3 separate regions of the Homo sapiens genome follow, and all the other regions are linked to region 3. The links come from fine-mapping of genetic effects on gene expression. A gene starts in region 3. Each other region holds a variant in brackets. All regions are shown on one strand. Distances are from middle to middle. Region 1 overlaps CDHR2 (cadherin related family member 2). Region 2 overlaps TSPAN17 (tetraspanin 17). Region 3 holds the start of GPRIN1 (G protein regulated inducer of neurite outgrowth 1).

Region 1 (10,470 bases), 45 kb after region 3:
GGTTTACATCTGTAATCCCCGCACTCCGGGAGGCTGAGATGGGGGATGGCTTGAGCCTAGGAATTTGAGAGCTGCCTAGGCACATAGCGAGACCCCCATCTATACAAAAAAATTTAAAAATTAGGCCAGGCGAGGTGGCTCATGCCTGTAATCCCAGCACTTTGAGAGGTGGAGGTGGGCGGATCACTTGAGATCAGGAGCTCGAAACCAGCTTGGCCGACATGGTGAAACCCCGTCTCTACTAAAAATACAAAAAATTAACCAGGCCTGGTGGCACGTGCCTATAATCCCAGCTACTGGGGAGGCTGAGGCAGGAGAATTGCTTGAACCCGGGAGGTGAAGGTTGCAGTGAGCTGAGATCGCACCACTGCACTCCAGCCTGGGTGACAGAGCGAGACTCCATCTCAAAAATAAATAAATATAAAAATAAAAAATTAGCCAGGTGTAGTGGTGCACAGTGGCTCATGCCTGTAATCCCAGCACTTTGGGAAGCCGAGATGGGAGAACTGCTTGAGCCCAGGAGTTTGAGACCAGCCTCAGCAATGTAGCAAAACCCTGTCTCTACTTTAAAAAATAAAATATTAGCTAGGCATGGTGGCACATGCCTGTAGTCCCAGCCACCTGGGAGGCTGAGGTGGGAGGATCAGTTGAGCCCAGGAGGTCGAGGCTGAAGTGAGCATGATCGCACCACTACACTCCAGCCTGGGGGACAGAGCCAGACCCTGTCTCAAAAAAAAAAAAAAGTCCTGTGCACTCCTCCCTCTCCAGCCTCCATGGGATAGACATGAGAATAGCACTTGCCTTTAGGGAGCAGAGATTGACTAGAACTGGACACAGGGAACTTTCTGGGGTGATGGAAATACTTTCTCTTGATCAGGGGATTGCTTGCACAGGTTTTGTATTTGTCAATACCCCTTGGTGTCTCTTGTTTCATCTGGCAGCTTTCGACATTCCTGGATTCCATTTTGCACTGCAACAAAGGCTGTGGCTTGTCCCCCAATATCCACTTGTCCCCCTTTTCTGAGAACAATGGAGCCCCAGATTTTGAGCTAGGCACACGGCCAACCAGAATGAAGGCCACATTTGCCAGGTTCCCTTGCAGCTAGGCGTGGGTCTGTGGCTTAGTTTTGGCCAAAGAGACAAAAGCAGAAGCAATGTGTGTAAAATCCAGAAAGGAAGAAGCCCTCTTGTCCCCTTCCTCCTTCTGTGACTGGAATGGTTTCTCGTCTGAGCCATCCTGGCCCATGTGGGTGGGACCTGTGCCTTAGGGAAGTCGGGCCACTGAGCGGGAAGAAGGCTGCGTGACCCCCGCCCCCTCAAGCCCTGCAGGGAGGGCAGCCTGATGGGACATGCCCCCACAGCTCCGTCCGGGCTCCTGGGCGGCCACGAGGGGCGGTAATTCACCTCCGCCTTGTTTGCATCTCTGTTATTTGGGGTCCCAACCAACCCGGCCACCTATGGTTTCTACTTCCCCGATCTATATCCTGCCTTCTGGGAATGTGGTATCTAGGCCCCCTGGCTCCTTCCAAAATAATGTTTCCCAAACTTCATTCGTTCCTGCACCGCTGCCATGACCTTTGCTGTGACTTTTGCCGTGACCATTGCTATGTCTGTGTTCTGTTCCTGGTGCTCATTCCTTAAATTGACTTTCCATCTCATGTAAAGACATTTACTTTAAAAGCAAACTTTACATCTCAAAACCCATCTCACCTGCCATAGACAGAAAGTAACTTTACAAATAAAAACAAAGCAAAGTGAGTCATTAGCTTCTGTGAAAGGGTCTGAGCCTGACACCTGCTCTCCCTTTAAAAAAAAAAAAAGCCAGCGTGGGAGTGGGAGAGATTAGCCAGTGTGAGGAAGGAGGAGGAAGCGTGGCCCAAGGGGATCCTCCAGTCAGAGACTGAAAGCGATGGGCAATGGGGGAGGCCGGATGATTTGGCGCTGGTGTGAGGGCCCCTGGAGGTGCGTCTCACACCTTTGAGGACACTGCTCTTGACCCAGAAGCTGAAGAGAAGAAAACAAACTTCTGGAATCAAAGGAGCTCCCTTCAGTCCCTCTTTGTCCCACAATAAGCCATGGAGTTGCAGGCATGGTGGGGGCTCCAGAGGGCACCCCAGGACTTTCCTGTGGGTCAGGACCTGACATGGGGCAGACACAGGGACCGGGACTCACCCACAGGCAGGTCCTCAGGCAGGATCACTGACGTCATGTTGGCTAGGAACTTCGGGGCCACGTTGGCTGCCACTGTAGGGACACAGTGTGCTGGAACATCGGGACACCCCTGCAAAACCCGATCCCTACCTGCTCCCCTGGGAGCACACACTAGTCCTTATGGCCACCCAGGCCACCCGTCCAGGCCTGGATTCCTCCCCAGGCCTCCCCAGCTTAGCCAAGCACAGGGCTGGCCCATAGGAGCTGGTGTTTGCTGATGAGGGATCCCCCTCCTTTCTGGAGGGTCCTGCCAAGGGTCTCTAGGTTAGGGCTGCGTGGCTGGGGAGGGGAGACACCTACCAGACACCACGAGGGCAGGAAGGAGGAAGCAGGACAGCCATAGCTGGGCCATCACATCCGCAGGGACCTAAGGGAAGAGGTCAGGGAATGGCTCCTGGACTCAGGCCTCCCTCCTTTTGGCAGACTCCCATCTGCCTGGGTCTGACCTGAGCCCACCCACCACTGCTGCTTAGTAGTTCTCCCCCAGGGCCTCTATCACCCTCTGTCCATTTTCCAGATGCTCTAGGGTCAGGGGAACCAAGGGGGAGGCCAGGTGGGGTAGGGGTGACCACGATGTCTGAACCTGAATCCAGGACCTGCCATGCACCAGGAAATGCTCCAAGGCACTAGATGTGCAGCTGTGTTATTCCCACAACTGTGAGGTGGCTGCTAAGGCACCAAGATACGAAGGGGCTTGCCTGAGGCCACGGGGAGTCAATGACAAGACCATGCTTGGAACACAGGTCTTTTGGAGTCCAGAGTTCATTCTCTCAACCACTGCACCATCTATACCTGCCTGTTAGAAGTGTTCAAACTAATAGTATCCTTCACAATCAAGACCCTGGAGAGGGACCATAATTTGTCCAGGACCATCCAGAGACTATGGGTGGGCAGGGTCCTTCGTTCACCTGCTGATACATCTAGTGGCTGTCTTTGCAGCCTTTCCCAAACTGTGCTCCGTGGAACCCTGGCCCTCTGAGATGCGCCACAGCAGAAGGGTTCCCCAGTCAGGTGGGTCTAGGGAGGGCTGCATACTCTGGGATCCTCTTGTTGATTGATAGCCAGACAGAGACCTTAGAAAACCCTGCTGGGCCAGTCTTTTTGATCATCTTATGTTGCAAGCCGTCCCTTGTTAGGGAAAAGGAGAAAAGGGGGACTTTGATTCACTGTCACAGAGAGACCTGAAACATCAAGGCCCTTTCAATGCCCAAAGACAAGGCTGGGCGTGGTGGCTCACGCCTGTAATCCCAGCACTTCGGGAGGCCGAGGCGGGCGGATCACCTGAGGTCAGGAGTTCAAGACCAGCCCGACCAACATGGTGAAACCCTGTCTCTAACAAAATACAAAAAACGTTAGCCGGGCATGGTGGTGGGTGCCTGTAATCCCAGCTACTCGGGAGTCTGAGGCAGGAGAATTGCTTGAATCCGGGAGGCGGAAGTTGCAGTGAGATGAGATCACGCCATCGCATTCCAGCCTGGGAGACAGAGTGAGACTCCGTCTCAAAAAAAAAAGAATCCCCAAAGACAACTGATGTGTCACTCCACAGAAAGCAGGAGAGCAGGATGGGCCCCCACACGTTTTGTTTCTTGCTGTCTGTCTAGAAAGTTGTCTGTATGCTCTATGTTCACTGTGCTACTCTATAATCTTTCTGTAAGACAGGGCTTTTTACTGTATACTTTTTTCTTTTGAGACAGTGTTTCACTATGTTGCCCAGGCTGGCCTTGAACTTCTGGGCTTGAACTCCTGAGTAGCTGGGATTACAGACGTGTGCCACTGTGCCCAGTTTTTTACTGTATACTCTTTTGTGCTGATTGAATATGTTAACTTTTCCAAAAATGAATTAAACAAGCTTGAAAGCAAACAAAGGAACACATTTGCTACTGTAAACTAAAAATAAAATCCTATGCCTCCCACTGACTAAACGGCCCCACTTGTGGCCCAGGAGACCCCAGAAAAACTTTCAAAACTTAGTTTCCAGCCATGGCGGGATGGGAGGTCAATCATGCCTCATTATACCCTTCTCTTTTACAGGCGACACACAATAACCGACCAGCGTTAATGTTAAAATAGAGTTCGCAGGACTGAAAGAATAGACATTCCGTGGCAATAAGATGCCAAATTATAAACAGGACCTGAGGCCATGCCAGGCCAGGGTGAAGCCAGGCAGCCCTACAGAAGAAACTCTGTTCTAACTGCCATGAGGGTTTTTTTTTTCTTTTTCTCTAGCAGCTAAATAAGCACTGGCCTCGAGAAAAGCCAAATTAAAGCAATTACAGCTCATCCAGTTCACAGCTGCTGACGAACTGAGCCCCTGTTCCACCAGCCATAACCGCAGCCTTTTTTGTTTGTTTGGTTTTGAGACAGAGTCTCACTCTGTCACCCAGGCTGGAGTGCAGTGGTGCCATCTCGGCTCACTGCAACCTCTGCCTCCATTGTTCAAGTGATTCTCCTGCCTCAGCCTCCCGAGTAGCTGGGATTACAGGCACCCACCACCACACTGGGCTAATTTTTGTATTTTTAGTGGA[G/C]ACGGGGTTTCACCGTGTTGGCCAGGCTGGTCTTGAACTCCTGACCTCAAGTGATCTGCCTGCCTCGGCCTCCCAAAGTGCTGGGATTACAGGTGTGAGCCACTGCGCCCAGCCCATAACCACAGCCTTGACTGGACAAGAGACTGATTTCAGTAACTTTCTCCTGATAAGAGCCCACCAACCACAGACCGGCTCCAGCTCATTCAGAGATTGCTTACTCATGCACCTTCCATGTCACAAAAAGGCCTTTTGATGTATAGGGCGTAATTGTAATACATTTACATGTTAAGTTGCCACCCCAAGTGAGCGTGGATCATATGTTGCATGCACGTGTGTTCAACATGCATGTGTCAGGAGCTCCTTTATGAATATGCATAGCTCCTCCTGTAACCTGTTGAATATGTATGTGTAGCCACACTGTCCAGCACCAAGCTCCTGCCCCAAACCCCATTTCGAAGTGTCTGTCTCTGGTCTTGGCCGGAGGGATGGCCACCTGCACATGGTCCCCTCTCTTTTTCTAGATTTATATTTTGTGTTTTTAAAAAAGTTAACACTACCAAGCACCCTCACCTGGTCCTGGGCACCTCTTCATGTCCCTTTCCCTCCTGCCCCAGAGCATCTGAAGTAAGCACGCAGCCCTGGGGAGGAGTGGGGGTAGAGGATGGCTTCCAGAGCCGAGCCCTGATGATGAAACAGCATCAAAAACCAGAACTCTCCCTCACACTGCCCACCCCTCCTCCCGAGTTCCAGCCTCGGGGAGCCACCCACCTGCCCACGCCATTCTGACACCTCCTTCTCCTGAACGCCCACGTCCAATCCGTGCAGCCTCCTCTGTTTCTCTCTAATCAGCCTGCATCTCTCCATCCCATACTGGCCGCCCTCCCTGGGGACACTGTCCTCAGCCTCCTCAAGGCCTCCCTTCCTCCAGCCTCTCTAATCCATCCCACTCAACCAAACTAGTCCTTCTGCACATAATCTAATCTTTTCCGCCCTCACTCAAAACCCTTCGATGGCTCCCCATTGCTAGAGTCCAGACTCCATAAAAGGGCTTCCCAAAGACTACCCTCGACCACTCCAGCTTCACCTCGAACCACTCCCTGCATCTCAGCCCACCCCTCATCTCCCGCACGCCCACAGACTCCCTCTGCCTGCTCTCACTACTGCCCGTCCCTCTTTTTGGAATGCTCTTCCCCGCCTTGCTGGCTGATGCACTCTCTTCATTTTTAAAAGCCAGCTCCAAGGCTGGGTGCGGTGGCTCATGCCTGTAATCCCAGCACTTTGGGAGGCCAAGGCAGGTGGATCACTTGATGTCGGGAGTTTGAGAGCAGCCTGGCCAACATGGTGAAACCCCATCTCTACTAAAAATACAAAAATTAGCCGGGCGAGGTGGCACATGCCTGTAGTCCCAGCTACTCAGGAGACTGAGGCAGGAGAATCGCTCGAACCCGGGAGGTGGAGGTTGCAATGAGTCGAGATCATGCCACTGTACTCCAGCCTGGGTGACAGAGCGAGACTCCACCTCAAAAAAAAAAAAAAAAGAACCCAACTCCAGGATCCCCTTCTGTCCAGACACGCCCTCAATGCTCCCACAGGAGAAACTGCCTCCTCCGCCCATCCATGGTGACCTCACAGGATGCTGCATACACCTGAGAGTAACCTCTGTTATCTCTTTGCAGATGAGCCTCTCCCACCAGGCCAGAAGAGATGTGAGGGCAAGGTCTGCGTCTGATGCACCTTTGTGACCCCAGGACCAAGCACAGGGCTGAGCCCAGTGTAGGCTCAGTGAGTATTTCTGAAAGGAATGAATGGATGAGCCAGTGAGTCACTGCAACCCCAGGTGGCTTATCCAGAACACCCATGAGATAGAGCAGAGTGTAATGTGGTATGTGGACCTGAGAGCCTGGGTCCAAATCCAGCATAACCTTGGGCAAGTAACATACCCTCTCTGGGCCTCAGCTTCCTCACCTGTAAGATGGGAATAATAACAGCACCTACACCAGGGGTTTGTGTTGAGGCTTAAACAGTGCCTAGCTCACAGTAAGTACATAATAAATGTGAGAAGTTATTATTGCAGGAAAAGGACGGTCTGTCTCTTGCCCTTCTCATTGTTGGAGTTCCCATTCCTGGTTCCTCTCTTCCGGAGAACTCTGCCCTGGCCAGCACTGGCTAGCTGCAGGCCCTCCTCCCCCAGTGTGCCCTAGACAGTCAGAGATCCTGGTTCTGATCTGGCTACGTGCTTCCCGGGCATGGTCAGCACCCCGCCCTGAAGCCCCAGCACAGCATTCCCTCTTTTAATTCAGATTCATCTCGCCATGCTCCCCACAGACCTGCTGGGGAAACATGGAACATCAGGAAGGCTGACAATCTTAAATAGCTGCTGGCGTTTCCTGAGCACCTAATATGTGCCGAGTACCCTGATTCGCTCATTCATTCCCTCAGTAAATAGTTACTGGGTATCCATGAGCCGCTATCTGCCAGACCCTGCTCCCAGCAATGGGAAGGCAATGGTGAGCAAAACAGTGCAGGTTCTGAATGAGACAGACTACAGACGAGTACGCAAAGTACCACCTAATAGTGCACTGCATCCCTGCTGTGGAGGAGGGGGATGTGGGCGTGATGAGAGTGAAAGAAGGGAACCGCTTTAAGTGGTATGGCAGACAAACATGACCACAGATCTTTTGACACTCCTTCCTGCAAGAGATGAGGACTATGTCTGCTCCCCTTGAATCTGGTGTATTAATCATTCTTTTTTGGCGTCTTTTTTTTTTTTTAATTTATTTATTGAGACAGAGTTTTACTCCTGTCGCCCAGGCTGGAGTGCAGTAGTGCGATCTTGGCTCACTGCAACCTCCACCCCCTGGGTTCAAGTGATTCTCCTGCCTCAGCCTCCCGAGTAGCTGGGATTACAGGGTGCGCCACCACGCCTGGCTAATTTTTGTATTTTTAGTAGAGACGGGGTTTCACCATGTTGGCCAGGCTGGTCTCGAACTCCTGACCTCAGGCAATCTGCCCGCCTCGGTCTCCCAAATTGCTGGGATTACAGGCGTGAGCCACTGCGCCCAGCCATTTGTTTTTATTTTCTGTGTTTTATGATGCTTTGACATCTTTGGGGCCTTGCTGGTTAGGGAGAGACTTCCCTCCTAGGGCTGGCTAATTCCCAGAGACAGCAAGCGCCTTGCCTTCAGACCTGCCTCTCCTATGCAAACCAACCAATCCAAAGCCACGCCTCAACCACCCTTTATCTAATTCTCACATACGAAGCCGATATTTCCTCGCTGTTAAACACCTCTGTCCTCTACCCACTAGATGCCAGTAGCAACCCCCAAGTTGCAACAGCCAAAAATGTCTCCAGACATTGCCAGGTGTCTCCTGATGGGGGAGGGGCCAGATGTCTCCTGATGGGGGAGGGAGAGTGGTGGTAAGATCACCCCTAGTTGACAGCCACTGTTATAGATTTTAAAAAAAATGCAGGAATTAAAAATTTAATGGAGGAATCAGAATATAAAGTTGAGAAATGGAAACTAGGAGAGAAAAATAAGAAATTAGAGGATTAATCCAGGAGGTCCAATGTCTGATTAATAGAAGTCCCAGAAAGAGAAACAGAGAAGGAAAACAGGGAAAGGAAACTATCAAATGAGTACAAACAATAGATTTTGTATAAGTGAATAACACATTTCCAGACTGAAAGAATTCCAAGAACAAATTTTAGAAAGAAAGGAAAAGAAAACCCAAGCCAAAGCATTTTGAGAGTATTAGGGATAAAGACAAGACCCTGAAATCCTCTGCAGAGAAAAACAAGTGACATACAAAGGACCCAGAATCAGAAGGTTATGGGGCTTTTCGGTAACAATCCTGGAGTTAATGGAGCTATGTGTGGGAGATTAATGGTGTCACAAATTATTTGATATTCCTTCTATTGAGAAGGGAAGTCTAATTCCTCCTCTTGAATCTGAGCTGGCCTTAGTGACTTGCTTGATCAACAGAACGTGGCAGAAATGCAGCATTCAGAAGCTCTGCAGCTTACACCTGGGCCTCTTGGGCCACTTTGCTCTAGGAACCTGGAGATACTTTGTTAGAAGTTCAACTACCCTGAGGCCGCCATGTTATAAGGAAGCCCAAGCTAACCACGTTAAGAGGCCTGTGCGTTGAGGGAGAGCAAGATGTCTAGCCAGTCCCCACTGTCCAACCGCTAATCTTTTACATAATCCCAGCTGAGGCCCCAGACACCATGGAACAGAGTTGAGCAATTCCTGCTATGCCCTATCCAAACTCTTATCCTATAGAATCAGGAAATGAGATTTACACCTCTGGCTAGGGTGAAGGGATGAACTTATGATACCATGTAGAAAACTAAGCAAGCAACCGGGCGCGGTGGCTCACGCCCGTAATCCCAGCACTTTGGGAGGCCGAGGTGGGCGGATCACAAGGTCAGGAGATCGAGACCATCCTGGCTAACACGGTGAAACCCTATCTCCATTAAAAAATACAAAAAATTAGCCAGGCGCGGTGGCTCACGCCTGTAATCCCAGCACTTTGGGAGGCTGAGGTGGGTGGATCGCCTGAGGTCAGGAGTTTGAGACCAGCCTGACCAACATGGAGAAACCCCGTCTCTACTAAAAACAGAAAAAATTAGCTGGGCGTGGTGGCACATGCCTGTAATCCCAGCTACCTGGGAGGCTGAGGCAGGAGAATTGCTTGAACCTGGGAGGCGGAGGTTGCAGTGGGCCGAAATCGCACCATCGCACTCCAGCCTGGGCGACAAGAGGGAAACTCCATCTCAAAAAAAAAAAAAAAAAATTAGCTGGGCATGGTGGCGGGCGCCTGTAGTCCCAGCTACTAGGGAGGCTGAGGCAGGAGAATGGTGTGAACCCGGGAGACGGAGCTTGCAGTGAGCCGAGATGGCGCCACTGCACTCCAGCCTGGGCGACAGAGTGAGACTCCGTCTCAAAAAAAAAAAAAAAAAAATAAGAAAAGAAAACTAAGCAAGCAAAACCAGTGACCATGCAGGAAAGGAAAGCTGTACTAGAAGGAGCCCAGGAACATCATACGCCAGTGGCTCAGGGGGTCCCGTTCCCATGGTCGATGGACTACAACCTTACCATGCGCGCTGGGGAAGCGTGATGGGCTGTAAGATAATAAAATCCTCATCTTTCACTTTAAGAAATTAACAGATAGGCCAGGCTCGGTGGCTCACACCTGCAATCCCAGCACTTTGGGAGGCCAAGGCGGGTGGATCACGCGGTCTGGAGTTTGAGACCAGCCTGGCTAACATGGCAAAACCCTGTGTCTACTAAAAATACAAATATTAGCCGGGCATGGTGGCGGGCTCCTGTAACCCCAGCTATTTGAGAGGCTGAGGCAGGAAAATCGCTTGAACCTGGAAGGCAGATGTTGCAGTGAGCCAAGATCGCACCACTACACTCTAGCCTGGGCAACAGAGCAAGACTCCATTTCAAAATAAAAAAAAAAGAAAGAAAGAAAGAAAGAAAGAAAAAAAAATCAACAGATAATGACTTAGCCCAGGAGGCCGAGGTTGCAGTGAGCAGAGATTTCGTCACTGCACTCCAGCCCGGGCGACAGAGCAAGACCCTATCTCAAAAAAAAAAAAAAAAAAAAAAATCTAAGAAGGTGATAATAAAAAGGAAATAAACAGATAATGTCTTAAAAATTATGAGGCCAGGCACAGTGGCTCACGCCTATAATCCCAGCACTTTGGGAGGCCAAGGCAGATGGA
Region 2 (7,988 bases), 47 kb before region 3:
CCTCAGACCCTCTCCTGGGCACTCTACTCCCACCGCAGTCCCCAGCAAGGCCGCCCTTCCCAGGCTGCACCCTCTTCAAAGCGGGGTCCAGCCTCTCCATCCTTCAGGTCCCCGTGTTTCACTCCAGATTGGCCCGCAGCGGCCTCGAGGTGCAGGGAATAACCCTGCAGAGGTGGGAGGCCAGCTCCTAGTGTACAAGGGTCAGGCGGCACTTAGGTGAGTAGAACGGGCCAGCTGGGGCCCTTGGTGACTGGGGAGGCAGTGTCCCAGGTAGTGTTGCCACCGAAGAGCCGGCGTAGCCAGGTGGTCATTCTTCAAGAGAAGCTGTGGATCTGGACTTTTATGTGAAATCTACCAATTTTTAAAGGTTGGCTCAGGGTATAAACCACCCAGGCCAAAGAAAACATGTCGGCTGGGTGGGGCCGGGCCAGGGGCCCCAGTCAGAGAGTTCTGCTGAGGCCCCGCCGTGGACAGGACCTCGGAAATGGTGGGCGTAAGCCAGTGGTTTTCAAAGTCATCATTCCATTTGCTCCTGAGAGGCAAGCAAGAGAAAGAAAATTCTTGGACCCATTTCAGAGTCTGGGACACTGAGGCTGAGGTGGGTTCCTGGCAGGCTCAAAGTTACAGCTCATAGAAAAGAGTGCTCTGAAGCTGTGTGAGGCAGTGGCTCAGGCAACGCGCCCCATACAGCTACGCACAGAAAGGTGCGTCCCAGCACTGGGGGGCAGGGAACGGGGGGGACCCTCCACACAGCACCTCCCACCCCACTTGGCCTGCACCCTCTGAGCTGCGCCCTTCCTAGTCCCCTGGAGAGTCCACCACCCCAAATGTAGCCGAGACGGTGGCTCCCTGTGCACACGTGTGCCTGCATGTGTGTGTACACACGCATATGGGACAAGAGGCCCAGGCGGAGGCACAGCAACTTCCTCCGTGGGTGGACAGCACAGCGGTTCAGGCGAACCCCTCAAGGCTCAGTCCCAGCAGGAACATCTCCTGCAGCCTTGCCCGTCAGGAGTATAGTAGGAGGGTCCTGGGGGGCCCCCCAGAGGCCTGCGTAGGCCAGGCATGTGGCCATGGCCTCTGGCGGCCTCACCAGTTGGCTTTCACTGCCTTGATGTCACTCACGAGGTTCTGGGCCAGGCAGATGCCAAAGATCTGTAAGACAGAGGACAGGTGAGGGGAGAGTGAGGGCGGCCCCGGCAAGGGGAGGGGCACGTGGGGCCACAAGGGTACCTGGAGGAGGGCGATGCCCATGAAGACTCCCGCCACCACAATCAGGTTGTCCTGCAGCCACTTCTCAAACTGGCCCACGCAGCCTTTGGTGTGGATGAAGCCCTGCTGCTCCAGCTCCTGGGGACACGCAGGCACCAGGCTCAGCCTACCTGCCCTTCAGGCCGGCTCCCACCCTCCCAGCCTGCCAAGCTCACGCCCACCCCAGGGTCTAAACCTGCAGTACCTGCTCCCCACAGTCCCTCCACAAAGCCGGCTCCTTCTCATGGGGTCTCAGCACAGATGCACGCCCCCTCCTGCCTGCCCAGCTTCTCTCCTATCACCTCCCTTATTTTCTTCCAAGCTCTCAGCTGAGACTGTCACATGGCTGTTCATATTGCTTTCTCTAAGGGCTTACCGTCTTTCTCCCTCCACTCCTCCAGAGCCGACTGTCTCATGAGCACCAAATCTCTGGCCTCTAGGGCAAAGCCGGGCACCCCAAGGGTGCTCCACAGAGCAGAACTGAGCAAACCCACATCTGCCCAGGCCCAGGGGTCTACTCCCCCTCCGCTGCCTGGGTGTCTGGCTGGTTCCTGGGACTCAGCACCCTCTCCCCAAAGAATCCCTGAGGCCTTCCAGAGGAGGTTATAGACACTCTCATACCCAACCCAGTACCCCTGCCTGCCTGCCCCAGCCCGGTTCCTACCCCTCTCACCAGTTTGAGCCGGACGTCGTAGCCACACTGGGTGTTGAGGACATCCTCCTGAGGGGAGACAGGCCAGTTAGTGACTTGGTGAGGACGCATCCCATGGGGTCCATGGTACCTGGGCAGTGCGGTGGCTTTTCCTTCTCAGAGGACGCAGATGGGCCCGTGGATTCTGCCGTGTCCACCAGTCTTAAGTGAGCCTCTCTGAGGCCCATGTGCTTTTGTTTTTTTTTTGAGACAGGGTCTCACTCCATTGCCCAGGCTGGAGTGCAGTGGCACGATCATAGCTCACTGCAGCTTCGACCTCCTGGCCTCAAGTGATCCTCCCACCTCAGCCTCGCAAGTAGCTAGGACCACAGGAGTGTACCACCATGCCCGTCTAATTTTTTTTTTTTTTTTTGTAGACACGAGGTCTCACTGTGCCGCCCCAGCTGGTCTCAAACTCTTGGACTCAAATGATCCTCCCATGAGCCACCACACCTGGCCCCACGTGCCTCTTTCCCAGACGCTGGAATGCGTGGCTGCAATCGCCAACCTGGACCTGCCTCCGTTCAGGAATCCTGCCTGCTGGTGTGTTATAAGAATGGGGAGAAACCTGGTCCTTGGCATCCCAGATGGACTATGACTGAAGAAACATCATCAGGAGAGGTTTCTGCCCTGAAGAAAGTCGTAAAGGGACAGAGGTCCCCACTCCCTGCTACCCTGCAACGGTGGCCCAGTGGGGTGCTGGCTGGCAATGACCCAGGCAACCCCC[G/A]TCACATACAACCATAACTGAGAGTGACAGCCTGGCCAACCTTCAAGCTGGCCAGGAGCAGACAATGGCTGCGGCTGTGTTTATGTAGAGGTATAGGGTGCAGGGAGGCCTCCAGGCCAGTCCCCATCCCTGTGCCCCAGGGTCCTGCTGTTTCCATCTCACTACGATAAAAAAGACAGGTCTTGCTGAACAGGGAAAGCAGCCGCGCCCCAACAGGCCTCAGTGCCACCCATGTAAAATGACGTCCCCCAGCATCCACGCCCCCAGAGCAGGGCAGAGCGGAGCGGGGCCCTGTGGGAGGTTTCTCCAGAGTCTGTGCACTGGAAAGTCCCTTACCTCTCCTCCCCCAGCCCCACTCACCGCAGGGTCCCTGACGCAGCAGGAGAAGGGCACCCCGCAGCGCTCCCGGCTGGGGTTCAAGTCAGTGCAGTTGAAGTAGATATTGAGGTTCCAGTCATTGGGGCCTCGGGCTCCGCAGCAAGACCACTGTGGGGGCAGGGGAGAGCCCCAGGTGAGCCAGGCCCATCCCAGGAGCCTCACCCTGTTTGGGAACAAGCCCAGGCTGCAGGAATACAGGGCTGTCTGGGACAGGGCTGGGACAGCCAAGTGGGTGGCCACCTCCCCACCCCCACAGGCCTGGGCCCAACCTCCAGGCTGGTGGAGGCAGAGGGGTGCAAGGGAGGGGACACTGAGCTCCCCCTTCCCCGACCCAAGAGAGGCTAGAAAAAGGGAGGGAGTGGGACAAGGATACTGGTTCAATGACTGTGGCTTCCTCCAGACTACCTGAGAGGCAGGCGCTGGGCCAAGCCCTGTGGCAGCAGAGACCGCTGGGCCCCATGTCTGCAGCAGGCCTCCCACACTTGCCCCAGAGGTTCTACAAAGCCCTCCTCTCTTCAGTGCAGGGACAGGAGGGGAATCCTGCCACCCCCATAGCCGTGCCACCCCATTTCCTCCATGCCGGCTGGCATCATCCCACACCCCATCACCCCCACCCAGAACACCCTAAGCTGTCCCCTAGGCAGGAGCAATGGCGAGTTTGGGATCTGCCATGAACCATGGTCTTGTGGGGCACACGGGTGCACACAGCCCTCACTGAGCAGCAGCGCAGGGGCTGGAGAGCAGCCCACAGGGCTGGGGGAGCTCAAGCTCGGCAGCAGACACAGGCAGGCCCCGTGGCCGAGCCAGAGAGCTGGAGGAGTCAGGCCTGCCACATGCCCTGCATGTGCTGGTCCCAGGGCAGGGCTCAGCCTCCACCTGCCTCCTGGCACCTGCTCAGCGCCAGCTGCTCCTGCTACAGAACACTCTCCCTTCTCTTCCTTCTCCTCCTTTGGGAGGCTTCAAGCTCTCCACGCAGAGGCCTTCCCATTCTCCACCCTTCATTTTGACTCTTACCACAATGTACAATTTTGCATACACACGTATGTACATGCACACATTTGTTTGTTCTGCTTGTTCACCATCTGTCTCTTCCCGACTGCCAGCCCTGAGAGGACAGGTCCCAGCTTTCTTCCCCGCCGAATCCTCAGGGCCTGGCTCTGGGTCCGGCATATGGTAGGCCCTTAACAATCCTGTGCTGAATGAATGAATGAACTGCATCATAACTGCCTGGCTATGTCTGCCTCTGCCCTGGGTTGAGAGCTGCTTGAAGCAGGCACCAGCTCTGCTTCACCTCTGGATCCAGAGCTGACTCTTGGTGGTGAATGGTGCCAAGGGCCTGTCGCCGTGTGTGGGTGTGATCGGGTGTGACTCATGTGTGACTGTGGGACCATGTGTAGGTGTAGGTGTGATCAAGTGTGCCTGCGAGTGTGTGACTAGGTGTGGTTGTGACTGTGGGTGACAGTGTGTGACTGTGTGTTTGTGGTTAGGGGTGAGTGGGCGAGATGGTGCAGGTGGGAGGCAGATAGGGTTTCAGGAACTCTTCTCTGGCTGCTCTTCACTGGGGTTAAGTTTGTAAGTTTGAGGGCAGACCTTCCATCAGGGGTCTAAACTCTAATATACACAGAGGCCAAACATAGTATAAATGAGAGATAAGGGCTGACAGATATAATAAAATACAGAGTGTTGGGAACAATGGCAAACAGAGAGCCTCTGTACCAGTGAAGGGGCAGCAGCAACATAGCTGCAGCCAATACCGTGGGCCCAAGGTTTAGCAGAAGTAGAAATCTATATTTTATGTCACATTTCCTCCATTCTCCCGTGTGTCGTAGGCCCTGGCCTGGGAGCTGCTAGCGTGGAGCCCATGCCCTCTGTTTCCCAAGGCCGTGGCCCTATGGCACTAGGCAAATGGGGACCCATAAGGATCAGCAGGGGCTGGCTCTCCTCGGACGAGGACACTCCTGGGTCTCTCTCCTGGGGCCCGCTAGCCCAGGTGGGTAAGGAGATGGTCCCATCACAGGGAACTTGCTCCCTCATTCGTCTGCCAGGAAGGCGCCTCCTACAGGTGTCCCAGGCTGGACACTGGACTCACGTATTCCTGAGCAAAGTCAATGAGGTTCTGGAGGTCAATGTCGTCCCGGTAGGCCTTGACGTTGTTGTTGATGAAGAGGTTGAGCTGGTCTCGAATCCAGTCCTTGAAGACAAAGGCCAGGATCCCTGTTGCCAGCTCCAGGAAGAAGATGAGACCGAGGAACACGGAGAACTGGGGTTGGGCATACAGACAGTAGGGGTTGGAAACGCAGGGCTCTGGTGACCTCCCAGGGCTTGGGTGTGCCACAGGGAAGGGCTCCATCCCTACCTCCACCAAGACCCAGAGGCGCCCAGAGCCCCCACCTTCTATTATTTTAGTATTGTTATATGATGGTAATAGGCATCTGTTGTTACCTACCCATCCAATTCCCTTTGTCTGGTAATCACACCCTGCTGTCTCTGAAAAACCATCCTCCATGCAAACCTTTAGTTTCCAAGGTTCGGATGGAGACACCTCCCCAAACCCACCAGTCCCAGATACAGGACTGGCAAGTGCCTAAAGCCCACCAATCAGAGCACTGCCTCCCTCGGCCTCCAGGGATTGGTCCAGAGGCAGCCAATCAGAGCCAAGGAAACGCAATTAAAGCACTTTGGGAAAACGGTTGGGAAGAGAGCTCTCAGCCTCCAGCAGGAGTTCCTGGGAGGGCATGGGGAAGCCGGCTCTGTTCCTGAGCCTCCTGCCACCTGGGAATGGAGCCAAACGGGGGGAGCCCGAGAAACAGGGAGAAACCAGGCCAAGTGAAACTGTGGCAGCCCCTGGATCAAAATGCACCGGCAGCCAGCACAACCCTGGACTTTTCTTATTTGAGTCAATAAATATTTTATGCTTGGGCCACCAGGTCTCGGTCACTTACCATACCACGGAAAGGATCCTAGTAAATATAGACAACATGAATCTAACGATGACGATTATAGCATAATAATAAAGCTACCCATCATTAAGCTCCAACTGTATTGCAAGAACTGGATGGGAGGAGATGGGGGTTCCCAGGGGATCTTGAGGGCAGCACTCACAAACTTGAGCAGGAAGGTGTTCTCCCGGAGGGCCCCAATGCAGCCAGCAAAGCCCAGCACCGACATGACGCCTCCAACTACCACAAACAGCCACACGGGGTCAAGGCCTCCCAGATCTGTCAGCGCTGAGATGTTCGAGAGAACGCCCTGTGCCGGGCAGCAGAGGCAGGTGTGGGGAGCTGACCTTCCCACCACCTCGTCCCATACCAGCTCCACGCCCGCCCGCTGCCTTACCTTCTCACCCCAGGCCCAGAGGCCGATAGCCAGGAACAGGGCTCCCAGCACCTGCAAGGGCAGCAACAAAGAGCTCAGGGCTGGGAGCAGCCCCAGGACCCTCCCCCCTCATCCTTCCCCGGTAGCCAGGGCCTTTCCAGCGGAGAGAGGAAGAGGCACAAGGGCTGTGAACGGGATCCGGGGTCCTTTCCATCTTCCCAAGAACACATCCCAGTGCTTCTTCCCCACAGGACACAGCCTGGAGGACTGAACCCTCTGCTAGCCTTGGGATGGACATCAGGGGCCCCTTCCTGGAACTCCAAATTGGAGCAGACGGTGGCCAAGACACTCCTGCCAAGGAGCAATAGCAGCTGTGTCAGCGGGGGTAGCGACGGCGCCAGTATACTGAGCCTCTACACCTGACCGAAGCTGGTGCTGGGGTTCCAGGCTCCTAGCCTCCTTTCTGCACCCTGCCAAGTCCAGCTCTCCTGCTACCCTAAAGCCGTGTGACTGCGGCCCCGCCCTCAACACTCCTCCCCAGCCCAGCCCCATCCTACCCCTTTAACCTCCGCCTGCCAGAGTCAGCTTCCACGGCTCACGACCAGACACCCCTGAATGACAGGAATCTCAATCATCCCTAGCAGGATCCACCTAGGATCTGGCCTGTGCCAGTGGCTTTGCCCCATGGCCACAGCTCTGCCTGGGCCTTCAGAACACCAGCTAGACTCCCCACCGGGGCAGTCCAAGTGCCTCTCCTCCATCCTCAGCTTTCCCACCTTCCTGCCTCAATTCCCTACTGGGAAGAGCCCTGGATGTCCAGGCTGGTCACTCTCACACCTGACCCTGGGCAGGTCCCTGGGCGTGCAGTCTCAGAGGGGGAAAGGCTGTCGTACCCAAGCCCAGGGCCATGACCCCACCTCCTGCGACCTCCCCACCCACCTGCTTTATCTGCAGGCTCCTTCCCCTCAGCACATAGCCACGGCCAAGGCCTTTATCACCTTCCCTTCCCTGACCGTGGGCTCCCCACACTGCTCTATTCTTTCTCTGGAAACATCTTCCCTTCCCTCCTGCCTGCTGGGTCTGCTGATGTGAAACCAAACATCACTTCTCCTGCCTCCTCCCACTTGGCCTGCCCTTGGCCTTCAGACAGGGGACTGAGTGCCACTTTCTCCTTCCTGAACCCCACCTCAGTTAACTCAACCCCATTCCTCCCCGAGCTCCTTCCCAGGATGCTCCGCCTTCACCTGCCCCGGGGATTGGTCCAGAGGCAGCCAATCAGAGCCAAGGAAATACAATTAAAGCACTTTGGGAAAACAGCTGGGAAGTGAGCTCTCAGCCTCCAGCAGGAGTTCCTGGAGGGCTGTGTTCCTGGAGGGACCACCTGTGGCTGGTCCCACGGCCTCCAGCCTCAGCCTTCTGCCGTTCTTCCTCCTCACGCTCGTCTTCCATCCCATCATGACGCTGGCATCTCCCGATCCCCACCCAGACCTCATGCTGGTCCCACACCCCTACGTCCACCCGCCTGCAGCAAACACCTCCACGACCCACCGGCACTGATCGCCGCCATGCCGGGGATTCGCTGGTGAATAGGACGGACTCGACCCTCACGGAGCTTACACTCCAGCA
Region 3 (9,525 bases):
TCCCATGTGCCGACACCCCTCCCATGACCTCCGGCACCAGCTGGAGGTGGATGGGCTCCCTTGTCTGCCTTCAGCTTTGGCCACGGCAGAACTCAGTTCTGGACTCAAATGTATCAGCACGGCCATCCTATAAACCCCTCTTTCCCCCCAGAGCTCATAAATTATCTGTCCTTCATCCACCTGGCTCCCCAAGGCAGAATCTCAGAGAGACAGCAGAGTTCTCTCTCCCCTCCACCCACATCCACCTCATGGTCAAGGCCTATTGATTTTACCCCTAGATAGGTATCCAATCTGACTCTTCCTCTCCATCCCTACAAATGCCGCCGTGGTTCAGGCATCATCATCGCTCACCTGAACACCTGCCATAGCCTCCTCACTCCTGCCTAGTCTCTGCTCCTGTCCACCCTTGTCCTGTCCCAGGGGGACCTTTTTCGATCACAGGTTGGTTCTTGCCACTTTTCACATCTGTGAACTTCTCCAAGCCTTAATTTCATCTGTGTCATGGAGCCAGTAATGTTTACTTTGAAGGGCTGTAGGGAGAAAAAAATGAAATGATGAATGTGGAATAAGGGTTTGTAAGCTCTGAAGCGAAATGGCCTTGTGGGCAGTGAATGAGCAATTTTCAGGACCGGAAATGTGAGGAAGCAGCCCTGGTGTGGTGCTGTCCGTGGTTCTGAAACCGGTCCGACACGCTGAGGTTTTCTCCTTGCCTGGCGTGCTGCCTGGAGACGCCAGTCCCACGGATTTTCTTCATTTATCACCTAGAATTTTAAATATATATATATATATATATATATATATATATATATATATATATATATATATATATATATTTTAAAGGATCACGGTGACTTACGGTTCACCAAGTAAGAGAGGGGAGTAAAATGTAAGAATAAGAAGTGAGGTTTCAAAGTTAGACTGCATGGGTTTGTAATCCCAGCTCCACTACTAACTAGATGTGTGACCACAAACAAGTTACTTATCTGCTTCTCTTTTCTTATCTGAAAAATGGAGATATAATACATTAATATTAACTTGCTCCTAAGCGATTGGAAATTGAAATTAGATAAAACCTGTAAACAGAATCTTAGCGCCGTGTCTGGCCCTACATAAGCATCATTGCCAATGGTTGTTACCATTGATTAATAGATGGTGGTGGCTTCATAGTACCGGTGCGAGAGGGTTTTGTCACATCTAGAGCAATTACGGAATTATTTTTTCTCCTCTGGGAAGTCAAGGGGAAGGGAACTCCTTCTCTGCAGGGAAATGTGGAGGGGGTGGGCAGCGAGTCTCTGTGTCCTTGGTGATTCAGATACCACTGGAAACCCCTGAACACCTACTTTGCCCTTCCAAGACCACCGTGAGGTGCATAATGTTAGTCCCGTTTTACAGATCGAGAAACTGAAGTGCAGAGAGGTGAAATGATTTGCTCGAGGGTATCCAGGGGGAGGGGGGAGGGCGGGCGGGCCCCCGGGGAGGCCGCAGCCAGGGACTGGAAGGCATCTCTCCCGCACCACTACCTCCGGCGTCCCCGCCACTCGCTGGAGCGTGGGCAGCGGCGAGACAAAGGGCCGGGGGCGGGGAAGAGGAGGCCGGAAGTGCGGCCGGGGGTGGGGGGGGCGGAGGCGGGAAATTTCCTCGCTGGCGGAGCCGGGAGATCGCGCCGACCTGGGTCCCCATCCAGGCGCCTCGAGTCCTCAGGCCGGCGACTGCCCCCTCTGAGCCCCAGTTCCCTCCTTGGTCAAGCCAGGCGAGGGCTTTCGAGGGGCTGGTCTAAGATCTGCTAGACGGCGCGCCCCGCCCTCAGCAAGCTCGCAGCAAAGGGGCAGCCTCTCCGGCCCTCAGTCTCCCTGTCTGTGAAGTGGGAACCCGCTCGAGGACGGCGCGGAACCCGGGAGCCCAGCGGCCGCAGTTAGGGTTGGCCAGCGAGGGGCGCCCCTCCCTCGCTCCCTCCGGCCGCGGTTTCCCCGCGGTCACCGCCCCCTCGCGGTTCCGAGGCGGCCGGGCGGCTACTGCGCATGCCCGGGGCGGGGCGCGGGGCGGGAGCGCGGAGCCGGCGCTGGGGACGGCGGCGCCGAGTCTGCGGGTCCTCCCGCCAGCCCGGCCGGAGGCAGCCGAGGCCGCTCGGGCGGCGGCGGCGGCGGCGGCGGGAGCCGGAGCGCATCTCGCCCAGGAGCCGGAGCAGCGGCACTGCCTGGTAAGCGCCGCGCCCACACCCGCTGTCTTTCCGGGCGGGCGGCGGCAGCCCCTTCATCCGCTCGCTGCCGCCCCGGAGCCGCTGTCCAGGGTCCTCGAAGCCCCCCGGCGGCGGGGCTCGGACACCTCGCGCGGCATGAGCCCGGGTGTGTGCGCGCGGCTGGGGGCGGTGGGTGTCTGTTTCCAGGCTCCTCGCCGGGGCGGGGCGGGGCGGGGCGGGGCGGGGGCGGGTCCCGCAGCCCTGGGCCGAACATCAGAGGGGCCCGGCGGGCCAGGCTGACCTGGCTGTGGGGTCGGCCCCGCGCCCGGCCTTGCCGCCGCCCGCTGGCTTTGTTCGGCATGGCCGCGCGGGAGGGGGTGCTTCCCGCCACTGGGGGGAGGGCGTCCTCCCGCGTTGATTCATCTTCCCCGGAGCGAGCTCAACGCTCCACTGGCTCCACTCGCACTACTGAGCACACTCGCCGTCACACAACCAGTGTGGCACACACTCCGGGGCGCGATCACACAACACCGCGTTCACGCACGGGCGCCTCATTTCCTCGAGTGAGGCCACAGGTCTACCGCACACACACAATGGCTGTTGGTCATTCCATTAGACTCATACACACGGCCACCTGTCACCCAGGGTACTGGGTGGGAGCCTTGCGTACACACCCAGGCACAGCTACGCACTCAAACCAGCCATCGCGGATCACAGCATGGACATCAACTCAACAATACTCCCTGATCACAACACACTCGGGGCCACCCTGCCCTGGCCTGCTCACCCCTGCTCATGGGGTCCCTTGCGTACCCAGATACCCTGGAGTAGACTGCCACCCTTGTGCACACACTCCCTCTTACACACACACTCTGTCTCTTAGCGTGCTGCCCACTCCCACCCACACTGGCCCACGTTTGCACGTCCATGAACGTCCATTCTTGCCCTCCTATGTATGTATGTATGCATGGTCTGAGGGCCGTTTCTGGAAGCAGGTCTGGCTAACACCTTTAGATTCCTTCTCCCCCCACACCCCCGAGCAGGAGACTTCGCTGCTCTGAGGGCACTACGAGAGAAGGGGACGAGGGGCAGCAGACTGAGATTCTCAGACACACTCAGATGCCTGACGAAGTCCCTCAAGCCTTTGTTGGTCTTGTCAGCACAGAAGAGGTATTTGCAGGTGCTTGGCAGTTCTGGCCCTGTTTATGGGTGTAAGGATAGCTCCATGCTGGAAAGAAATCCTAGAGGGAAAGGAATGGCTGGCCAGGTCTCTGTGGCCTGAATGGGCAGCCACAGGGGCTGCTGCTCTCCCTGGGAGCAGGACACAGGCACCTGTGCAACACCCAGATAAGCTCTCCTAGGAGTGAGATACCCACAGGGTCCAAGTAGCCCCCACGAGGCACAAACACACAGGCCATTCTGCACATGCAGGGTGTACATACGCACAACAAGCTCTTCTTGAGCAGAACACAGGAGCCAGGTCCTGGCCCCAGAGTGGCCCAAGCTGGTACATACATCCACAAGCAGTCTGTTCACTCCTTTGCATGCCAGGTGAGCCCGCCTACATACCTAGCAGACATTTCTGCCTTCTGCCTCAGTCAGGCCACACTCAACCTGTTTGTGCCCAAGTGTACAGGCTCATCTGCTCATAGGGTGTGTGCGTTCCCACAGGTGGGGGAATGTATGCAGGGGGAGGGGAGCTCTTGCTTCTTCTACTGCATGCTCCTTGGCACTGTTGCTTGGGAGGAACCTTGGCCTGACCTCAAAAACCAGAAAGGGGGTTTTGAGAACCAAGTGTCAGGCCAGGTGCAGTGGCTCATACCTGTAATCCCAATACTTTGAGAAGCCCAGGCAGGAGGATTGCTTGAGGCCAGGAATTTGAGACAAGCTTGGGCAACATACCAAGACCCCCATCTCTACAAAAATTTAAAGATTAGCTGGGTGTGATGGCGCATGCCTATAGCTACTTAGGAGTCTGATGAGGGAAGATTGCTTGAGCTGAGGAGTTGGAGGCTACAGGGAGGTATGATTGTGTCACTGCACTCTAGCCTGGGTAACAGAGTGAGACCCTGTCTTCAGAAAAAAAAAAAAAAAAAAAAAAAAAAAAAAAAAAAAAGAGCCAAGTGTCAGTGTCCACGATCTTAGAAAGAACTCAGGTTTTGTGCTTGGGCACAACTGGCTTTGAGCTACAGCCTTCCCTCAGTTGTGTGCCCTTGGTCAAGTCTTGACCAAGTTGTGTGCCCCAGTTGTGTGCCCCAGTTGTGTGCCCTTGGTCAAGTCTTCTCCCTCTGACTTCAGTGGCCTCATCTGTGAAATGGGATGATAATGCCCCCCTCATGAGATTGTTGTGGGATCCAGATGATAAAAAGAGACTGAGACCGGGTGCAGTGGCTCATGCCTGTAATCCCAACACTTTGAGAGGCCGAGGTGGGTGGATCACTTGAGGCCAGGAGTTCAAGACCAGCCTAAACAACATGGTGAAACCCTGTCTCTACAAAAAATACAAAAATTAGCCAGGTGTCGTGGCACATGCCTGTAATCCCAGCTACTCGGGAGGCTGAGGCAGGAGAATCACTTGAACCTGGAAGGTGGAGATTGCAGTGAGCCGAGATCATGCCACTGCACTCCGGCCTAGGCAACAAAACAAGACTCGGTCTCAAAAAAAGAAAGACAGTGAGCGTGCTGGGCCCAGGTAATGGAGCTGGGTTCTAGTGGGGTAGTTGCGGGGAGAGAATGTGGGGCCTCAGGCCTGGGCTGCCTCTCAGAGAAGCAGCTCGAGGATCCTCAGGCCTCCCCAAGATCCAGGAAGGGCCCAGCAGAACTGTGAGCAGTAGAGCCTCTGGGAGTGGTCTTGGGGCAGTTCTGAAACCCAGGGCTGGCCTATCTCTTCCAGATGTAACTACATCCCCTCTCCCATTTCACAGATTGGAAAACTGAGACCCACGGAGTAGAAAAACTCACTCAGAGTCATAGAGGATGTCAATGACTAAGCTGGGGCTTGACCCCACATCTTTCTACCTCCCTGACCAGGCTCTCTGTCCCTACCCTGGACTTTATCCCATCTCAGAGGCTGGAAAATACAAGTTGGGGACGGGAAGCCTGGGGACTTTCAGAAGGGGCATGTTATCAGCTGAGCCAAGCTTGCCTCTTAGAACCTGTTTCTTCCTCTGGAAAACAGGACTACAACAGCTGCCTGGCAGGCGGGTGGGATTTGCACATAGTAAGGGCTCGACTTGTACAAGGTCACCTCTGCCTTTCATGGCATTGTGCTCCAGGGTCCACACTCAGGTGGCTACAGGCCAGGAGGGTAACATACATGAAGGGCCGGCTGTGAGAAAAACGACAGTGAGAATTCCATGATTGATGGCAGCAGACAGTCAGCCTCAGTGTCTAGGACACCGTGGGGAAGAGGGGGGATTGTGGCTGATTGGAGAGTACACCCCCATCTAAGGAGGCTGTCCCTTTGGGGCTCCAGCTGAATGTTGCCAGGCAGGAAGCACGCTCAGACTGCCAAATTTTAGTTTTCCAAGAGAAGCTGGAAATCTTACTGTCACATGAAATCTTCTAATGTTTAGAAGTTGATCGGTTAATTCCTTTTTAAAACTGATTTTAAAATGTGTTTAGCTCTGTGGGTCAAACAAGCCTGTCTGAGGGTCAGGTTTTGCTGGTTTGTGTCCCTGCTGCAGACCCTTTCCTCCCCTGCCCCCTCCTGGGAGCACAGCTGGGCTCTGACAGGCTGAGCAGATAAAAACAGGCCTTCCACAGACACAGCCCAGCCCTAAAGTGAGCAGAGTCAGGCACACCCCTCATTTTCTTTAATTCTCACTATAGCCCTGGGGGAGCAGGAGGTGGGTTCTTCAGGGTCCCCAAGGAGGAGAAGGGCGTTGCTTGAAGTCACAGAGCTGATAAGCGGTGGGCTGGCCTGACTTTCTGCCCGGGCTGCACCCAGGGAGAGGAGCTTATTGGCTGGGCTGGTGTGTGAGGACCCCAGGGCTGGGCTTCCAGGGCTGAAATGAGGGGTAGTGAGGGCCCAGAGCACCCTTCCTATATCCTTTGCTGACTCCTTCCAGCTCCAGCTAAACTCCCTGTACACCAGCCAGGCAGCTGTTGAATTCCTGTTTTCCAGAGAAGGAAACAGGCAGGCATGGTAGGCAGATCCTGGCCCTCACTGGAGCCTGGGCCCTTTCTCTCTCTCCCTGTCTCTGTTTTAAAGACAGTTTCTTGTTCTGTTACCCAGGCTGATCATAGCTCACTGCAGCCTCAAACTCCTGGACTCAAGAGATCCTCCTGCCTCAGCCTCTGGAGCAGGCAGGACTATAAGTACATGCCACCACACCTGGCTAATTTCTTTTTTTTTTTTAATTTTAATTTAAAGTTTTTGTAGAGACGGGATCTTGCCGTGTTGCCCATGCTGATCTGGAACTCCTGGCCTCAAGCAGTCATCCCACCTTGACTTCCCAAAGCACTGGGATTACAGCCGCGGAACTCCGCCCCAGGGCCCTTTCCCTTGACCATCTTCCCGGTCACCCTGGCTTATAACGTCCTTTTCCATAGGCCAAGGGCCAGATGGATCAGAGGTTGCAAGCTGGTGACCTAGGGGTCAAAGTTGGCTCATGAAAGTGTTTTGGCCGGGCATGGTGGACCATGCCTGTAATCGCAGCACTTTGGGAGGCCAAGGCAGCCAGTCACTTGAGGCCAGAAGTTCGAGACCACCCTGGCCAACACGGTGAAACTCTGTCTCTAGTAAAAATTTAAAAAATTAGCTGGGCATGGTGATGTGCGCCTGTAGCCCCAGCTACTCGGGTGGCTGAGGTACGAGAATTGCTTGAACCCGGGAGGCAGAGGTTGCAGTGAGCTGAGATTGTACCACTGCACTCCAGCCTGGGTGACAGAGTAAGACTCTGTCTCAAAAAAAAAAAAAAAAAGTGTTTTGTTTAGCCTGTATGATATTTTTTAAATTAGCCAATATTTAAAACATGGATATCCATGCTGGGCGCGGTAGCTCATGTCTGTAATCCCAGCACTTTGGGAGGCCAAGGTAGGCAAATCACCTGAGGTCAGGAGTTCGAGACCAGCCTGACCAACATGGAGAAACCCTGTCCCTACTAAAAATACAAAATTAGCTGGGCATGGTGGCGCATGCCTGTAATCCCAGCTACTTGGGAGGCTGAGGCAGGAGAATCACTTGAACCTGGGAGGCAGAGGTTGCAATGAGCCAAGATAGCACCATTGCACTCCAGCCTGGACAACAAGAGCAAAACTCTGTCTCAATAAATAAATAAATAAAATACAGATATCCAGATTTATGACTTAGCTAAAAAAAAATTTAGGAAACCTGGAGGCACAGCGGCCACATTCACTTCCCTGCTTAAATACTTCCAAGGGGCGGGATACAGTGGCTCACTAGGCGCTAGGTATAATCCTATTGTAGACACGAGATCCTGCTATGTTGCCCATGCTGGTCTGGAACTCTTGGCCTCAAGAGATCAAGGTATAATCCTATTACATTGAGAGGCTGGGGTGGGAGGATCACTTGAGCCCAGGAGGTCAAGGCTGCAGTGAGCCGAGATCGCGCCACTGCACTCCAGCCTGGGCAACAGAGTGAGACATTGTCTCAAATAAAAAGAAAATACTTCCAGGGTTTCCAGTGCCCTTAGGCTAAACCCCCCTCCTCCACCATGCCTCATGTGATTTGCTGCCTCCTCTTCCGCTGCCACCCCCTTTCCGACTCCACTCCAGCTCTTCATGGCTGGCTCAGATGGTAACTGCCTCAGAGGGGCCTTTCTTGACCACATGTCTAAACCAGCTGCCCACTCCTTTGTCTTCACAGCATCCATTATTTGAAATACTATGATTTATTTGCCACTTGTTTATTTCTCTCCTCCCAATCTTTCTGCATCTATAAGGCAGGGACCCCACATTTCTTATTCACTGCTGTATCCCCAGTCCCAAGAATAATGCCTAGAACATTGCCTGTGTGCTCAGTAAATGCTGAGTTAATGGAATGATTCCTAATTGGCCACAGCTGGCAGGAATTGAGTGCCGTTGCCCCTTTAGAAGGGGCCAGTGCCCTCTAGTTTGCCACAGTCCCCACCACTCCCTCTTGTCTCCCTCAGTCTGGGGATGTCAGGAGTCTTTCATCATCTCCCTTGTAGGAGAAAACAAATATTTGTGCCCATATCACTATCAAAAGGCCAAAGATGAAGATGGACTCAATTCACGCCACTCAAATCTGATGCCTGCCTGACCCCTGCAGGCTGGTGACCATCCAGTGATCCCACGAATTCCAACCAGACCTCTCCCGTGCTTCTGGCCTGCTTCCTACTGCCTCCTGGATGTCACCCCCCATAAGTCCCATGGGCACTCCAGTTCCACTTCCGAAACCCAGTGCCCCATGATCCTCTGCAAAACTGTTCCTCTTCCTGTGTTCCCTCTTAGTGATGGTCCCCCTCCCCCACCTCATAAGCCAGAGCCTGAGGGACCCAGTAGTGAACAGTATCGACTGTGTCCCCATCCAGAGACCTGAGGTCTGGCCAGGGACCCAGAGGTGTAAATGGCCAGATGCAGAGTGACATGAGCCTTGTTAGAGGAGGAACGAGAGGCTACAGGAATCCCCAGGAAGCTGGTAGCCAAACAAGGCCCACTAGAGGAGGAGGTGTTTTAACGGAGATCTGAAGGTGTAATAAGAGACAGCCAGGCAAGAAGGGAGGGAGAGATTCCTCCAGAAGAGGGTGTGTAGAGGCTGAGATGGTGGGGGAGAGAGAGAGTGTGTATCTGTGTGTGTACATGTTTTGGGGGTGGGAGTGGGTAATGAAAGATAAATCCCAGCACTTAAGTAGAAACATAGGGGCTTAGGAGCATATTAAAGAGCTGGACTTTACCCCAAAGGTAAGAGTGAGTCATTAAAGGTTTCTCTTTATTGTCCATTGGAAAAAAAAAGGACTATGTGCGCACATAACCACAATTTAAACATCACAAAGGGGCGCACAAAGAAAAGCTTCTCCCACCCTCAGATCCCCGCTCTTCCTTCTGAGAGGCAGTCACTGCTAAAAGTTTTATAGGATTCCATCCAGAAATTCTCTTTATAAATAAACCCATCCATGTGTGTCCTTTTCCTTGGCTACACGCGTGGGATCCCAGTAGCGATGCTGTCCCCTGGCCTTTTTCAATTAATTTATCTTGGGTGCTTTCCCTCATTACCCCACACCTTCTAGTAGCTGCCCGGTGCTCTGCGTGGTTGTCCCACAGTTCACAGAACCTGCCTCCCCGTCTTGTTCTCATCACTAGCCATGCCCTTGTGTACCCCAGGACCATCTTCAGGACCCCAGGTCTATCTTTAGGACCATGCT

Evidence for each region. PIP is the estimated chance that this variant, and not a neighbour inherited with it, causes the effect. A credible set is the group of variants that fine-mapping cannot tell apart.
Region 1: its variant is the best candidate, but not a certain one, in a credible set for the expression of GPRIN1 in lung (TOPMed, PIP 0.61).
Region 2: its variant is the best candidate, but not a certain one, in a credible set for the expression of GPRIN1 in sun-exposed skin (GTEx, PIP 0.57).

What each region holds. Positions count from the first base shown.
Region 1 is chr5:176,557,446-176,567,915 of GRCh38, reverse strand. It overlaps CDHR2 (cadherin related family member 2), which reads right to left. Exons shown (of 32, transcript NM_017675.6): 2 at 2,512-2,578; 3 at 2,173-2,244. The coding sequence starts at 2,563. Among named protein-coding and RNA genes, the nearest start is that of CDHR2, 13 kb to the right of the region's middle. RefSeq lists an enhancer at 835-1,800. The variant G/C (reference allele first, on the strand shown) is at 4,737.
Region 2 is chr5:176,650,062-176,658,049 of GRCh38, reverse strand. It overlaps TSPAN17 (tetraspanin 17), which reads right to left. Exons shown (of 9, transcript NM_130465.5): 2 at 6,384-6,434; 3 at 6,150-6,296; 4 at 5,137-5,307; 5 at 3,030-3,155; 6 at 1,925-1,972; 7 at 1,234-1,350; 8 at 1,094-1,155; 9 at 1-532. The coding sequence ends at 352. Among named protein-coding and RNA genes, the nearest start is that of TSPAN17, 6.6 kb to the right of the region's middle. RefSeq lists an enhancer at 6,521-7,988. The variant G/A (reference allele first, on the strand shown) is at 2,670.
Region 3 is chr5:176,602,671-176,612,195 of GRCh38, reverse strand. GPRIN1 (G protein regulated inducer of neurite outgrowth 1) reads left to right here and starts at 2,040. Exons shown (of 2, transcript NM_052899.3): 1 at 2,040-2,197. RefSeq lists silencers at 514-808, 1,710-2,339, 2,400-2,459.